Linked DNA regions of Homo sapiens: region 2 is linked to region 1. Evidence: fine-mapped expression QTL. Tissue or cell type: whole blood. Region 1 holds a variant in brackets; the other region holds the start of a gene. All regions are shown on one strand. Distances are between the middles of the regions.

Region 1 (8,180 bases):
CTTCTTGCTCTTCTTCCATTTCTTCCTCTTCTTTCTCTAATGCTGCCACCACTGCTGCCACCTGTGCCAGCTATTCACTGAGGGCTGCCGTGTCCTGGGCACCGGGCCTGTCTCTGTAAATGTGCTGAGCTCCCTGAGGGCAGAGGCAGCCCCAACAAGCGGCCTTTCTTCTTCGACTCCTCAGAAGCCTACTCCCTCCATCACTGCTCCAGCCCAGCCATACCCTGGTCTTATTGTGGCTCACACCTGCCCAGTTCTTTCAGCCTCGGGCCCCCTGCACTTGCTGCTTACTCCATAGGGAACGCTCTGTCCCCGGACCATCACAGGGCTGGCCCCTTCACTTCATGTAGGTGCCTGCTTGTGTACTGCCTTCTGGTACCTGGCACATGATAGAAGCATAAAACTAAAATTTGTGCAATAAATGCTGATCAAAGTGGATGTTTTCTCCTCCTTGGATGTAGAAAAGCATATTTAATTCATATTTATGAATGCAAAAAAGCATTTACTAAATATGGCATATAAATAACTAATAACCTTAATGCTGGCTAAATGTAATACTATGAGGGTTAAAATAGCACCTTCCTTATAAAGCACATGGCATTCACAAAGAGGCAGCTTCTACTACAAAGGCTTTGAGAGTCACAGGGTGTGGCATCGTGGATGGAAACCCTGGGGCAACAAACTTGTGGACCGCCAGCTAGTGCTTGGTTCAGCTCACTGCACCCTGCCTGCTGGCCACAGTATTCCGTTTCACTAGACTAGAATAATGGGCATGCTCCAGGGCACACCACCTTTTAGGAGATCACAACATTAGTAATTTTTAAAGCTGAAGTAGCACCTGGGAAGACAGCAGGTATTGCTCGTGACCCAGATCCCACAGTCCTGGGGGAGTCAGCAGCCTAGAGAGGGTCCCCTTCACCGGGGTTCCTGCTCACTCTTACTCTTAAGTACCTGTTTATAATGATGAGTCAACTATTACTGTTTTTAAAGATTAAATTAATTAAATGACATTAAGTAACTATGCATACTCCACCCTCTTCACACAAAGGATTTAAAGTGGCTTCTAAAAATACAGAATGTTCAATAAAATAAAACTAGGCAAAGGAAAATGAGGGCAGAGGCAGCCAGGCCAACTGGTCCCTAGGAACTGAACCTCTCAAATGGGAGCGCCAAAAATGGCCCCATTAGAGGGTCCTGGCATCACTGTGACAGGGGCCCTGCAAGACGAGCTACAAAGTGTCACTTTTAAAGAACAGCCCTGGCTGTAGTGAGGTAATCCATGGCTCCACCAGGCTCGCCCTCCCGGGGCAGGCTGGCATCCCAGAAGCATTCCATCAAAATAACGTCTTCCCCACTGAGCACTTCATCTCCTGACCTCATTCACTAAACTCTGCTAGAATGTTATGTGCCTCCAGACACATTTGCTGAGGTCTAGCCCAATATTTTATTGCTAACTATGCCTCTAATTTTAGAGCCATGCCATTTCCATACAATTTCCACACTCTGTTCAATTATTTTTCATCCTAAGGGCTTTCAACCAAGAACAGGCTGCCTCTACTCCAGTGAAAAATTAGAAGGGTGAAATAATTCTTACATTTATATGGCTCTGCAATTGCTAACGTGCATTTGTCTGTGTCATCTCACTTACTCTTTGCCCCAACTTTGCATGGGGAGCCTTGTGATCCCCGTTTCAGAGGTAGGAGGCTGAGGCTCAGAGGACACTAAGGGGCTTGCCCGCTGCTCTGAATGGAGCAGGTGAGCTGGGGCGGAGGACTCTTAACTCAGTGCTCACTGTACTGTGTCCCAACTGTTTATTAAAGTGAAAAACATCAGGGTGGGAGGGTGAGCCTCAGACTGGCCTGGGCTCAGTATATCTGCTGTGTTGCTTCAAACAGGTGTCCCCGCCTCTGTGGGCCTCCATCTTTTCAACTGTATAATGGCACTCACATGTAGGACTGCTCTGAGCTCAGGCTCCTGCAAACAGTATGGTTCACCAAGTGTAGGTCCTGTCATTCTCTATCCTACAGGATATAACAGACACTTGAAAATGACTTTTAGAAAAAGTGCAATTTACCTGTTAGCCACCAGAGTGCAGTCAATTTCTGGTCGCTTTGTTTTGGGAATGACATACAGTGGGTACCTGTCTCCGTGGCGAATGAACACATGCACTGAGACCAGCTTAAAATGATGCGGGGCATGACCTGCGCGAGAGAAGCACATTGTCTGGTTATCACTCAATAGGTGTCAATCCTTTTAGAAGGGGGCCAAGGGGATGACCTGGCCACATTTGGGCTGGGAATCTGAGCCGGAGGCAGCAGGGGCCACCGTGGGTTTGCAGAGCCACCACAGTGAAGGGGCCCTGGCTGCCATTCTGGATGGGGGCCACTGAATAGTCTTACAAGGCGGGACAGAGGAACATGAGTAGGCTGATTATGTCCCAGACCTCCTGGAAACAACGGGAGGCTGGTGAAATGCGGGCATGACTACTAATGTGGCCTCACTCACATGCACAGACCAGGGAGAGAGCCACGGAAATACTAGAAACAATGATTTCTGCTTTAAATCTTTCATGAGACCAGAGAAGGCATAAAGAGATCAATAAGGATTCAACACTATGCTCTGATACACTTTTACAAAAGCAAAACTTGTAGAAATTGCCTCACTTCTATGGCAAGACGCCAGCAGGACATCCTGTGGACATCCTGAGTCCCAAGAGGCTACCCTGAAAAGCAGAGTGTCTCAATGTGCTGCACTAGTGCCTGCCAAGGCCACCTTTCTACCTTGCTGCTGTCTCACTAAAGATCATGATGATGGCAAACATTTGTGGTGGGTTGATCGTGAGCCACGTGGTATGTTCAGAGCAGTTACTGAAACCTCCCCAGTCCCAGGCATAAGTCCTGTGAGTTACTCCCATTTTATAGAGGAGAATGCAAGGACCCAGGAACTCATTCAAGGGCACAGCCTGGTGGCAACTGCAGGACTTGGGTCCTGGCCATCTTGCTCCTTACTGCTGTGCAATGCTGCTGGAATAACTAGTCCCCAAAGGGGTATCTGTCCTGGTGGCACAGTCAGGCCTACCTTCCATGCTGCGCTCGGCCACGCTGGGGATGTTGCAGTACAAAAGAGCTTCATAAACGGGGTCTGTCACAGGGGGCTCCGTCACAGGGTCGGGCATGATTCTCTTTCGACTCTTGCTACTCATTCCATTCTTAGGAGTCGACACCGGGATCAGGTGGACTGAAACGAAGTAAGGCAGGTTGTGACGCACAGTTCCTGGGGCGCCAGGCCAGCTGCAAGGCCCAGCGCAGGGCTGGATTTCACTTTGAGGAGCTATTCTTACACTGAGAATCAAGGTGCACTTCAGTGGAGCAGAAGTCAGCTTCCCATTC[A/G]AGAAGGGCTTCTGAGCCCCACTGTGTCCTGCCCCTTCGTCACTGCCACTACCCTCTCCTTATCATCTATTCAACACCAGGGGAGCCTCCCAAGCAAAGGGGCCTCTCTCAGGGCAGTTGGAGGAAGAACTCACACACTAACTTCTTAGGACCTGATTACCTCTTCCTAATGCCCTTTAATTCCAGTAACAACAAGAAGGAGGAAAACCATCATTCCTCATTGAAGACCTGCTAGGTGCCAGATGTGGGTGTCTGACATATCCCATTTATCATCATCTGCTTTATGCTTTGTGGGCCTTCAGAGTCGCTCATCTAACCCATGAGAGCACTTTACAGAAGAAAGCCAAGGACCAAGGCATGTGTGGTGGGTGAAAGCCTGTCTCACGCTTACTCCTTGACTTCAGGCCAGCTTCCCTGCCACTGTCTTCGGCGTGGCATGTGTGGGTCTTGCAATCTGTGTGCTTGTCCATCTACTACCCTCATTCCATTAGTGAGCTGACCCTTCACCACCACGTGTGGTCAGGCTGGACTGTCAATCACAGTGTCCCCACCCCCTGGCAGGGGTGGACATGTGACCAGAGTCAATAAGGGTAGTAATGGGGCAACTGGACTCCCTTTCCTCGAGACAGGTGATATACAGACTCTAGAAGAGGTGCTCTTTTTCTTTCGGATGCTAATCTGTAAGAATGGAAATGTGGGGCTGCCCAGCCATCTATCCCTCATGAACAGCTTCTGTCTCAGTGGTCCCTAATCTCTCCGTGCCTAGGGAATGTCTTTGTAGCATCATAGATCCTCTAGAACTCCCAACACAGTATAGTCATACTTTCAGCATCCGCCCTTTGAGGGAAACACATGAAAATAAGTGTGCTCACAGATCTTTTTAACTTCTAAAAGATTTATTAATCACCATAATATCTACACATGCGCACGAACAATAGCTAAAACAGGGACCAACCACCAGCCTAAATCAATGTAAATTCCCTAATTACTTCTACAAATTCTTCTACATAAATATTTAAAACTTCCCTTTGGCAAACAGATGCCATAAACAAAGATAAAAGGCAACACACTGAGAGAAAAATATTTGCAACTAACCTAACAGACAAATGATTAATATCCAAAGTCCATAAGAGACCCTACACCTGAAAAATCATTAAAGGATATGAACAGGCTAATCGCAGAAAAATAAATACCAATGGCCAATAAACACATGAAGAGATGCTTAAGTTTGTTCATAATTAGATACAGATAAAACAACAGTGTGATACTGTTTTTCATAATTGTTTATTCATAATTAAAGAAATATAAATCAAACAGTGGACTATATTAATAATTTTTCCTCATCAAACTGGAAAATCATGTTTTAATGATAACACTCAATATTGGGAAGGGTGTGAGAAACCTGACGCTTCCAAACATCATGGGGAGGGTGGAAACCGGCACCTCTCGGGAGTGTTTGGCAGTAGCCATCAAAATGGTATATGTGCACTACCCCCGATCTCGTTATTCTACGTCTTGGAATCCATTCTGTATCTATAAAGATAGCGATGCCCACGCACAAAAATGTGTGGCCAAAGAGATTCCCTGCAGTGCTGTTTGTAATAACAAAAAAGGGAAATAACCTAAATATCCATCTCTAGCAGAACAGAACGTTATGTCCCTACTGTGGAATGTTCTATCCCAGTTAAAAAGAAGGGAAAAGAATCAAAGATAAATTAAGTGAAGTGAATACACCAAGTCACTGTATACTGATATAATCCTCTTTGTGTAAAGAAAAAAAACAAACCATAAATGCATAAATATACAGGGATTTGTTTATTACGTAAATGCATAGAAAAAATGTCTAGAAGGTTATCCATCATAACACAGCAGTGGTTTTCCTCTGGGAAAGGATGGAATGGGGTGTGAAAAAGTATTTTTACTTGTTTGTATATTCGCACACACATATACGTACAGTCATGAGTTGCGTAACAATGGGGAGGCACTGAGAGATGGCCCTTAGGCAATTTTGTCATAGTGTAAACATCATAGAGTGCACTTACACAAACCTAGATGGTAGAGCTTTCTACACACCTAGGCTATTTGGTCAGCCTGCCGCTCCTAGGCTACAAACCTGAACTGCATGTTACCGCACTGAATGTTGTAAGCAGTTGTAACACAATGGTAAGTACTTGTGTATCTAAACATATCTCGACTTAGAAAGAATACAGTAAAAATATGGTATTATAATATGGCACCACTGTCATATATGTGTTCTGTCGTTGATGGAAGTCATTATGTGGTACATGACTGCATATGTATTTATAGTAAGCACATATTAATGTATTCTATATGTATAGAAATATATATTTCTGTATTTCTATGCTGTCTAGGTAAGCATTTTTTTTTTTTTTACAGTGAACGTATTTCCCTTCATTACTTGTGTTACCAAAACAACAATCACAGAGATACAGAACTGGTGATTCACCCACCCAACATTAGCCCTTTGGTTGCTCCTAGGGCCACTTTCTTTCCAGTAGTTGGAAGGTGCTAGGATGGCTAACACAGCCCAGGTGTTCAGAGGGAATTCACTACAGGGGGATTAGCACAAGAGCACGGAAATATAGAAAAGTGCTAAGGCAGTCTCTTAGTGACCTGGCCCTTCTGGCTGGCTCAGTCCTTGATTCTGCTCTTTTGTGAAATCTACCAAGTCCTGGCCCCTTGGCCATGCCTGTGGGCACACTCCCTTGGAGTCTGGGCCAGGGACAGAAGCAGCTAAGGAGACAGGATAATATGAGTGACACAGAAATGGAGGGGCACAGGTGAGGACAGTGGGTGTCCTAGAGTGCCCACAGTTTGCTAGTTCATCTATAAGCACCCGGGGTGAGGCCTGTTGTGGCTGCCATTTGGGAACCATGGTGGTTGGGTGCAAATGACCCACCCATGACCCAAGGAAGCAGTGGTTTGAAAACCACAGATAAAGATCAGAATGAGACCTTCTCTCCAGAAAGATTTTATCTGCTGCTTCCTCTGGTATCTGGGCCTGTCAACTGTGTCTACTAGTTCAGAGTGTGAGATCACCCTGTACTATTTGTACCTCCCTGAGTCACCAGGACATAGCATCAGTTCACAAGGGGCCTTCCCAATACCAGGCATTCAAAACAGGTCCTGACACATAGAAGCTGTGAGGAGAAGTCTCCCCAGCTCCATCTTGACCCCAATCCCAACTTGGTTCTCACTGTTCTGAGCTGCTCTGAGCCATCCCACCCCACAGGATGTTTCTCGCCTATGCTCCACCGTTTGCTGGCAACTCTACTCTCACCCTCTGCTCCCGAAATCTGACCAACACTGTAACTGATCCTAGGGTCACCTCCTCCAGGAAGCCCGCCCTGAATCCCCAGTTCCCACATCCTCTTCTATGAGCCTACCCAGTTCCTGCTGCCGTCATGGCTCACAGCATAGTATATGCAAGCAGGGGTGTCCCAGTTTGTCACCCTGCCATCCCAAACATCCAGAGGGCTGGGAGTGTGCGTCTTTCACATTTATATCCCCCGCTGACTGACAGAGGATAGGTCTTCCAAAAATACCTGCTGAACTGGGGCAGACGCTGTGCTCCATGCTTTTGATGAAATATCTCATTGACTCCTCATGTGGAGCACTGAGGGTTGCCGAACCAGTCTGGGGTGAGGGGCATCCAAACAGGCTTCCCAGAGGAGACACCTAGCTGGGCCTGAAAAACTGATGAAGCTGGCTGTGTGGAGGGGAAGAGGAGAGGAGCAGAGGGGAGGCCGTGAAACACAGCCAAACATGGCAGATGGGGGTCAGCAAGCTGGCTCAGGATACGCCTTGGGTCCCGTAAGGCCTGGTCAGGTTGGCCTCACCAGGGTCGATGTGCAGGCCGGGCTCCAGGAGGAAGGCTGGGAAGGGGCCTGGAGGAGCAGACCCCGGGCTGCAGGCCGCCTCTGCCCTGGTGCTGTGCTACTCACCACATCAGCTCTTGAGGCTTGCCCCGATCACCTAGATAAAGGGAGCTGAGGGACAGACCCAGGGGCTGGGGGCAGACACTGCTCCAGGACACTGCTCCTCCCAGCAGGCTTTGCCCAGGCCCCCCGTGCCTCTAGCTGTCCTGTGGAACAATTAGAAACTCTGCTGACCTCAGGCAGATGACAGCAGCTCAGATGTCACAGGGCAAGAGAAAGAGGCTGTGGGGGCATCAGAAAGAATAGTGGGCAGATAAATAGATGGAAGGATAACGAGTTTCATTATGTAGGTGGGAAAACCCATGAATCTAAATGAGTGTCCTGGGGCCACTGTGCCACCAGGACCAACACGAATAACAGGATACGAGATATCTTTTACTGATGATTAACTCTGTACCAACGGGCATGCAATTTCTCTGTGGTGTGATTACCAAGTAGGAGGGCAAATTTCCGTAAGCTACCTTTGGAAATAAGCCTCTCTTTTATGGCGGTGTTCTCTGCTCATCTCATCTACGATCACTTTCATCCTGTCCACACATCTATAACCCTCATGTGTAAAGATGCCGACAAGGTCTCAATTTCAAAGAAATGGCAGAGAACATGACCTCTAAAGCATCTCCTTGGGACCCTCCCTCTCAAAAGCAACCAACAAATTTCTTAGAATCATGAGTAAAACAACCAGATGCTATCCCACGCAGGCTCCCTCCCCACCACCCTTCCCCACCCCATCTCCCGAATGCACAGTGGATGACTCTGTATGTATTACTAGTAAACATTCCCATAGCTATAGCTAGGATGCAAGCCAAACTGATCCTCTCTCTGCTTTTCCCAG
Region 2 (8,180 bases), 45 kb after region 1:
AGCTCAAAATGATACTGCTGGATCTCTGAAGGCCTGAAGGTTGGTGTTAGATCCAAGAATGAGGTAAGCTTAGGAAAGCAAGCTGTGGTTTTGTTGGTTGAAAAGACACATGTCTCTGAATAACTGAGGGGTGGGACAAATAGTATTCAAAATGATTTGTAACTTTAATGTAAATGATGGCTGTAACCACAAACAGAAGTGGAGGAGGAAAGGGGAGAGAGTGGGGGCATCAAAACCAGGTGCAATAATTTTCATCTTAATATGCTTTTTAATCAATATGCTATTGATTACAGCTCTTTCTGAGGAAGCTGGTCACACCCAGGGGCATAAGGGTGGCGAGCAGGTGACAAAAGGATGCCCTGTAAACTGAAACATGAGTGTGTAAATTGGGGAAATGATTCTGCAAATACAAAGAGAATTTTAAAGTTACTACAGTCTCTACTACCACATGTTTGAGTTCCCCCAAACTCTCCTCCACCCTCGAGTACGCAGCTCAGAGGGAGCTCCACTGATGGAGGGAGGGGCAGACGCATGCACAGATGACTGTGGGCCAAGGGAATGAGGTGAAGGGTGCCTCCTGACTGCAGAAACTACTCCCCAAGCCGCCATCCAGTTCTTCTTCCATGCCTTTTTAATCATTAACTTCTTCCAGACTCCTGAGATTGTTCCCGCCATCACTGCAGACTGAACTTTTTCCAAAAGCCAGTGGCTTCCCCAGCCAAAGTCCAAAAAGGGTCAGAGAAGCCTGCTGGTTTTGAGGGTGGAGGATAAACAGGCCAGAGTCTGTGGCTCAGTTAGGTGTTAGTTGGCCAGGGCCCTCCTGCCTTTTGGACTCAGAGCGGACCCTGAAATTCATTCTGGGTTCACGGGTGCCTCCTCGTGGCTGCCATGCAGCATCTCCAGGTTGAGAGGCTCCAATGGGCCGTCGTTTACCTGCAAGGCTGCACAGCAGGTTCAAAAAGAGTCCCTGGGAGATGCTTCTATCAAAAGGCCCACCATCCTACTAGAAAGCTGCTCCCTCTTCTTCACCTCCTAAATACAGGTGCACAGACCTTCCAAGCCACTGCTCCTTTTGTCACTTACCTAGACTCTCCCCTCAGCACCTCAGGTGAGATGAAGTGGCAATGGCTGCAATCTGAAGTGGCCATGGGGGCTCTCCAAGTGGTACCCTGTCTCCCTGGAAGCTTCCTCCATTGGAAAATGGGTGATGTCAAAGGGGACTGGGGCTACAGCTCAGGGCCTATAAATTAAGCCATGGTAAAGTGGCTTCCCAGGCCAAACCCCAGACCAATCTTGCTCAAGCCATTATTTCCAAAAGGGCACACACCTCATTCAAAAACTTCAAACAGCTCAGTGCTCTCCTGCCGTGCTAAGCCCAAGTCTCAGCTGGCTTTCAAGGCCTTCTCAAAACCAGAATGATGGGCCCAGCAAATGGATTTCAGATTCCCATGGGGTCATTTTTCCTATCTCAGTGACTTTGCTCCTAACTGGTAACCCCTACACTGGAATGTGGGCACACTTCCTTATCCACCAACCAGGAACCTTGTCCAGGGACAGGTTCTGGGGCCAAAATCTCCCCCTATGAATTTTCAGGACCTTGAACATTCTCCTATCCTTTCTCCCACCCACCTCTAGATAGTAGTATGTCTCTTTCTCCCTCTCCTCCCTTTCTCTTACTCACAGACTGCAGGCATTAATTAAACCTCTTCTAGAAAACAGATTTTCACCAGCTGCAGGAATTCTGAGCCAGACCTGAAGACAGAGACAATCTGGGTAAGAAAGATAAGTTCGTGACAGCCAGGGGCAGTGCAGGCTCCCACAGCCAAGTGGCAGTCTCAATTTTAGCCCTTTCCAGATTCCCCCACAAAAAAAGGGGGACATGAGGTGTTCCCACCCCCTCAGCATTTGGCTGTACTGCCTGGGGGTGGCCTTTGACAGAGGCACAAGAGCTGGACCTTGCCCCATCTGCCAGTGGGTTATAGCCACCTCCAAGAGACCAAAGCACTGGCCCAAAACACCAACCTCCCTCCCACCAATAGAGCTGCAAGCCACAGTGCCAGAAATGTGCAAGAAGAGGCACTCCCAGCTCGCCACAGGAAGCAACACCCACTGGAGTGGGGATGGTGCAATCTGAAGTGGCCAGTGGGGCTCTGCAAGTGGTACCCTGTCTCCCTGGGAGCTTCCTCCGTCAGTGGGCAGGGATAGGAAATGTTAAAGGGGACTGGGGCTACAGCTCTGGGCACTATAGGTTAAGCTATGGTGGACTCAACCCTCAGCAGACAAACTTAGTAGCTTCCAAGGGCGCCCACCACCACCTACCCCAATTCTTGAATGAAGACAACTGATTTTCTTCATGGAAATCTTGGAGTCCCCACTGAGGTTAACGACCCACCATCAGAGACTGATCCGTAGATTGCACTCACTGCTCCAAACACACACAAAAATGAGTTTGTCTCTGGTGATATGACACATTAAAAAAAAAAAACTGTTGAATTTAAGGGTAACATTTTGAACAGTGTAGCAAAGTGTAGAAAACATTGGTTGTGAACTCAGACTAATTCACCGGGGCATCCATTTTTTTTCCTCACAAACACTGAGTACCCCTATGTGGTAGACAGGGGGGACCAGGCAGGGACCTGGGGCCACAGAGGTGGTTCCTTCCACCCATCCCTGAAGATGCTCCTGCACAGTGGGGCATCTGACAGCGACTCATCACAGAGCGGTGTAGGGAGGGCCAAGGAGAAGCCCACGGGAATTTCTGGACAGAGAGACCCTACTGAGCCCCAGTATGTCCTTGGGCTACTTATCTAATCAATAGTGAAGTAATATTGAGCTAACTATTCAAGCTGATCAATAGAAAAAAGAGTTACAGATACTGCAGTTCCACAAACACTCGGAGTGCTGTGCTCCAAAGGCCAGGTGGCCCACGCTGTTCCTGGTGCCCAAACGCAGCCTCCCAAGGCATCAGTGAGGATGGGCTGGCCAGGAGCCAATCCCTAACAGAGAAGTTCCCCCTACACATCCTTTCTCTGAGATAAGCAATTAATTTAATCCAAGACTTAATGAAAGCCAGGAGAAGGGATGGGGCAGATTCATACACTGGCTTTCAGGCTGTCCCGTGCATCTTCACCTCTCTCCAGGGACCACGAGGGTTTTTTTTTTTTTTTTTTTTTTGACAGGGTTTTGCTCTTATTGCCCAAGCTGGAGTGCAATGGCGCAATCTCAGCTCACTGCAACCTCTGCCTCCCAGGTGCAAGCGATTCTCCTGTCTCAGCCTCCTGAGTAGCTGGGATTACAGGTATGCACCACCACGCCTGGCTAATTTTGTATTTTTAGTAGAGACGGGGTTTTTATGTTGGTCAGGCTAGTCTCGAACTCCCGACCTCTGGTGATCCGCCCGCCTCGGCCTCCCAAAGTGCTGGGATTACAGGCGTGAGCCACCGCGCCCGAGGCCTTTTGATCCATCTGCTATAAATCCCCTTCCCACAGATGTCCCGATTGGGCACCAACACCTCTGAGGAGGGTAAGTTACTGCCAAGCCCGACCGCAGTCGCATCCCGTTTGAAAGGGTGGGCTCCGCACTGCCAGCTTCACACCCACGGGCCTTCTGCAAATATCAACAAACGGCTCCATTTGTGGAGCACTCTCCGATCCCCCATCCACCCCCCTACACTTCCCCATTCACAGCTCGATCTGATTCCCCATCTCTCCTGATTTTACTTGTTGAATGCTTACAAAGGATCCTTGCCTTTCCACAAAGACACTGGCTAGCCAGGCGGTGATAACCTCACTCACTACAGAGCCCCCTCGCAATCGCTGAACTCACAGCCGAAGCGGGAAAATATGGCTCCACGTCCTGCACCGTGAATCCTTTACCATCCACAGGTACAATTTAAAAGGCAGCTGCGGCTGCAAAGCAGGCAACCTACCCTAAGCAAATCCATTCTCTCTCTCTCTGTGTGTGTGTGTGTGACAAACCCAGCTTATTTAAAAGATCAGGACATAGGCAAGTTCACCAGCAAAAGCAACGTCGTGGGTCTACACCACACGGTCCTAACCTGCGCATCCAGGAATGTTAACCTGCGCTCGGGCGGCCCCGTGGCCAGGCCCGGGACTCCCGGAGGCGTCAGGCTGCAGGTGGCTGCCAAGAGGAGCCAGCCCCGTCTCCGGGAAAGGCCGCGAAGTTGCGGCCGCCTCCTTACCTGGAGACTAGCCGGCTCAGGACCGCCCGGGAAGGGGGATCCCGGGAGCTTGAATCTCGGCTGGAATCCAGCGGCGGGAGTGCGGGGGCCGTGCGGGAGAGGGCTGGAAGGGCGGGGGCGAGGTGGAGGCGGGCTCCGCGGGAGAGTGCGGGGCTGCGGGGGGCGAGGGCTTGGAGACAGAGCCGGGGGTTCGCAGCGGGCGTGAGACGGCGCCAGCTCTGGGAGAAGGGGGCTATGGGGCGGGCGCCGGGGCTGGGACACCGGGCGCACGGGGGGAGTGGCAGGAAAGAGGGCGCAAGTCCTAGGCTCAGGGGCGAGCGCGGGGATAAAGGAGGAGGCTTAGTCGCGGGATTCGGACCCGACGCTTCGAAGCGCCCCCAGCCTTCCCGCCCCTCTCCCACTGGCGAGTTAGGGGGACCCCCTCAGTCTCCCAACCTCGGACCCTGGACGCCCACCCGCCTAGAACCTCTGCGCTGCTCGGCCCCAACGGCAACCGCCCCGGCCCAGGCCCGCGCCGCACTCACCGCCCATGGTCCCAGGCCGGCCCCAGCTCCGTCGCTGCGCGCCCGGCTCGGCGCTCGCCGCCAGCTCCTCCCGGCGCGAGGGGAGGCGAGGGCGGCGCGCACCCGCCACCGGGGAGCTCGCGGGGCCCGGCAGCGCCCCCTGCCGACCCCGCCGCGCCCCGTCTCAGTTCGGCCGGCCCTGCACCAGGAGCCCTGGAGCTCCGCCCCGGAGGCGGTGTTGCGGTGCGGCTGGGCGGGGGCGACCGCGCGGGGTTGCTGAGAGGACACTGCCTCTGGGAGGCCCAGCACAGCCCGGAGAGACTGGTCAGTCTGCAGAGCCCTCGGCGTGCAAAGCCACGGGCACGGACAAGCCGAGCGCGCAGGGACCACGACCACAGACGCGCAGGGCTCTCGCGTGCCTCACAACTCCTGACCTGCGATCAGGGACTGCGCGGAGGCGCGCCAAGGCCCAGGAACACAGCCCTGGCCGGCCCGGGCCCTAGTGTGGGTGCTTTGGGGCCATGTGCCTGCCCTGGCGCCGCTGATGCTATCGCCGGGTGGGCGCGCGCGTCTGGGGTGCGCCTGCTGCCACGTAGACCCAAACTGTCACCCCCCACCCCCCACCCCTTTCGGCCTATCCCACACTCCTCTTCCGGCTCAGAACACATCCGGCCTTGTGTTGCTCTAGTCCTCGCTGCTGCTCCGTCTCCAACGGTCTGCAGAGACCCGGGGAGGTCGTGGCCCCGCGCAGTCGCCCTTCCCACCTGCTCCCGGCCCGCGGCTTCCTTGGAGCCGCTGCTGAAGATCCTCAGAGCACTTGAGGGCTGCCTGTAACGCCCCGTTAGACATCTGATAGGCGAACGGTTGTATTTGGTTTGATCAGTATTTGTGGGTCATTTATTGCAAATGTTAGGTTCCAGCTGGTGGAGATTTCCACCAGATTTCTCTGTGGGAGATGAAACGACCAACAGCGATTATCAGAGAGGTCTTTGCTGTCAGCTCGAGGTCTACAGCAACCCTGTGTGTCCTAGCACAACTAGCCTCAGGCAAAATAGATACGGATTCGAATTTGCTACTATATACCTTTGAGGTGCACCTTTGGGAGGATCTCATCCCTTGACTTCTGCTTTCTCTCCTTGATTGATGGCTCTCAAATCCACACACTTGGCTCAGATATGTTAGCCATATTTCCCCCTACCCTCCGGTTTTTTTCTTAGAACTTTCCTCCTCAAGTTACCACGTCTGGCACTAAATTTTACCTCTTCCAAGCTCCCAACTCCATTTATCCCCGTGGTCTCGCCATTCTCTCAGCCACCTGTCATGCCTTCTTCATCAGGTGCCTTAATGGCTCGTCAGTACCGGACTTTGCTGCCTGTCCGCCTCTGGTATTCCCCCGATGCAGCGCTATCCCGGGCCTTTTTTCTGCCCTGAATACTGACAGCCTCTCCCAATCCATGAGCACAAAATCTTTTCACTGTCCCCTTTGGCATCACCCCCAACTCTCCCACCTGGCCCCCACAGAAGCCCACCGCAGCCCGCCCAACAATGTCTCCTCTGCCCCTTCTGATTGTCCTCTCACGGATTGCAGGCTCTACTGCTTAGCTCACACTGTCACCCTCTTCTCTACATGGGTTAGTCAAGGTGCTTTCTGCTGTAAAAGACAACCCAATTCACACTAACTTAAATCACAAAGGGTTGATCCGCTGTGTACATGAAGAGCCTGTCTGCTTCAGGCCTGGCTTTAGTCCCAGGGTCTCAGGGACTCCCCGTCTCAGTTTTGCTGTCTTCCACATGAACTACGCTTTCATGCGCACATGAGACCCTGGCAGATCCAGGCTCACAGCCTCACAGCTCTAGTTCTAGCAGAAAATCAGCTTCTCTGCCAGCCATTGCAACTAGCCTTGGACCTGGCTTTGTTTGCAGGATTGGGCCACATGTCCATGCTGTGCTCTCAGCCTCTGTGACTCCATGGCAGGTGGGTTCACTCGTGGACACACTATCACCCTCAGCAGGGAGCATGTAGGCACTCTTGGATCCCTTCTCTGTCACAAGGGGACTAAAGGTAACTCAGGGCACCATCTCTAGCCATTTCTCTGCAAAATTTGCCACACCAGCGCTTTGCTTGACAGCGCAGGGCATACTGTGGGGGCAGAGTCTCAGCCTGGAGATAGGACACAGGCCCTTTCTGCTTTCAGCTTCCTCCTTAACCTATCTGAGATCTGTGTCTTTGTACCACCCCCTTCCCTAGGTCCACACTTGGTATAGGGATAGCCTCAGGCCCTCATGGAATCAGGCATCATACACTCCCTAGACTCACATCCTGTTTCTTTACCTCACCTTCCCGATTCCCTGAGGATGTCTATGCTACCTTCCATTCTAGAGGAGGCATCTCCTCCCCCTGTGGACTCTGGGTTCTGAGTGGTACCCACCGAGCCTTAATGGAGAAAGGGGCTATAGGGAAGAAAAAAGAAAAGCTTCCTACAGGGAAAATAGATATGAGGAAGCATCTCAAGACCATTACTCCCACTAAATCTCTTTCCTCCGTGGTTGCTGAAGAGGCAGGATGGCAGCCTGACACAGCTGGGGACCATCTGGCCAGCACCTGGGGAGACTGTGCCAGAGACTGCAGCTGACAGAGGAAAGCAGAGTGGTGAGATAGGCAGGTTTCTTTCTTTCTTTCTTTTTTGTTTACCTTCACAACAGAATGGATGTCATAGGCAGGTTTCTGCTGTGCCTGAATCCCACATACCACTGGATTTTTCAAGTACGTGTTCCAGTAAATACCCCATTTTCCCCCAAGCAAATTAGAATTGGCTTTCTCTGTCACTTGCAACCAAGAGAGTCTTGACTAGTATAAGCCTCTAGCATAGGACCTCACACATTAGTTCCTGTAAAATAGCAACTATCATCACCGTTATTCATATGATAAATGAGCAAGCCATCCTCTTTGGTAACTGTAAACTGTAGAAATGAAAAGTGCATGCAGTATGCTCAATAACTTTTGTCTCCCCTCTTATTCCCAGCCTGCTCCTTTGTCCTTTCCAAATTCACATCTTGACCTCCAAGGAAACCCTCAACATTCATTAAAAGCAGAGCCCACCCATCTTATAAAAATAGTCCCAGACTCACCCAAGTCACGAATATTCCGCTAGGCAGCATTTGCTCCCATGTTACACAAGTGATCCCTTCCTAGACTATAAGCAACTGGGAGCAGGTGTCCAGCTTCAATTCACTTTCAAGCCTTTGAGCAAAAATTGTACAAATATTTGCACAGCCTCCTTTGTCCCGTACTGTAGACTTAAAGAAACAATGAGCTACTGCCTCTACACTTAAAGGGACTTTACCATGGGGAAAGACAAATAGTCTAGGACAGAGACTGAGATGACAGATGACAATACCAGGGAGTCCTCTAGGGGATGGAGGTGGAGTGGTTATTTGCACCATGTTCTAAGTTCCAAAGGCCTGTGCTGCCTGC

What was found. PIP is the estimated chance that this variant, and not a neighbour inherited with it, causes the effect.
Region 2: it holds the start of PXYLP1, and the variant in region 1 is fine-mapped to the expression of PXYLP1 in whole blood (INTERVAL, PIP above 0.99).

The regions. Positions count from the first base shown.
Region 1 is chr3:141,273,399-141,281,578 of GRCh38, reverse strand. It overlaps PXYLP1 (2-phosphoxylose phosphatase 1), which reads right to left. Exons shown (of 6, transcript NM_001037172.3): 3 at 3,079-3,237; 4 at 2,075-2,201. Among named protein-coding and RNA genes, the nearest start is that of PXYLP1, 46 kb to the right of the region's middle. RefSeq lists an enhancer at 7,584-7,753. The variant A/G (reference allele first, on the strand shown) is at 3,390.
Region 2 is chr3:141,228,458-141,236,637 of GRCh38, reverse strand. It overlaps PXYLP1 (2-phosphoxylose phosphatase 1), which reads right to left and starts at 4,813. Exons shown (of 6, transcript NM_001037172.3): 1 at 4,727-4,813. RefSeq lists a silencer at 4,695-5,074.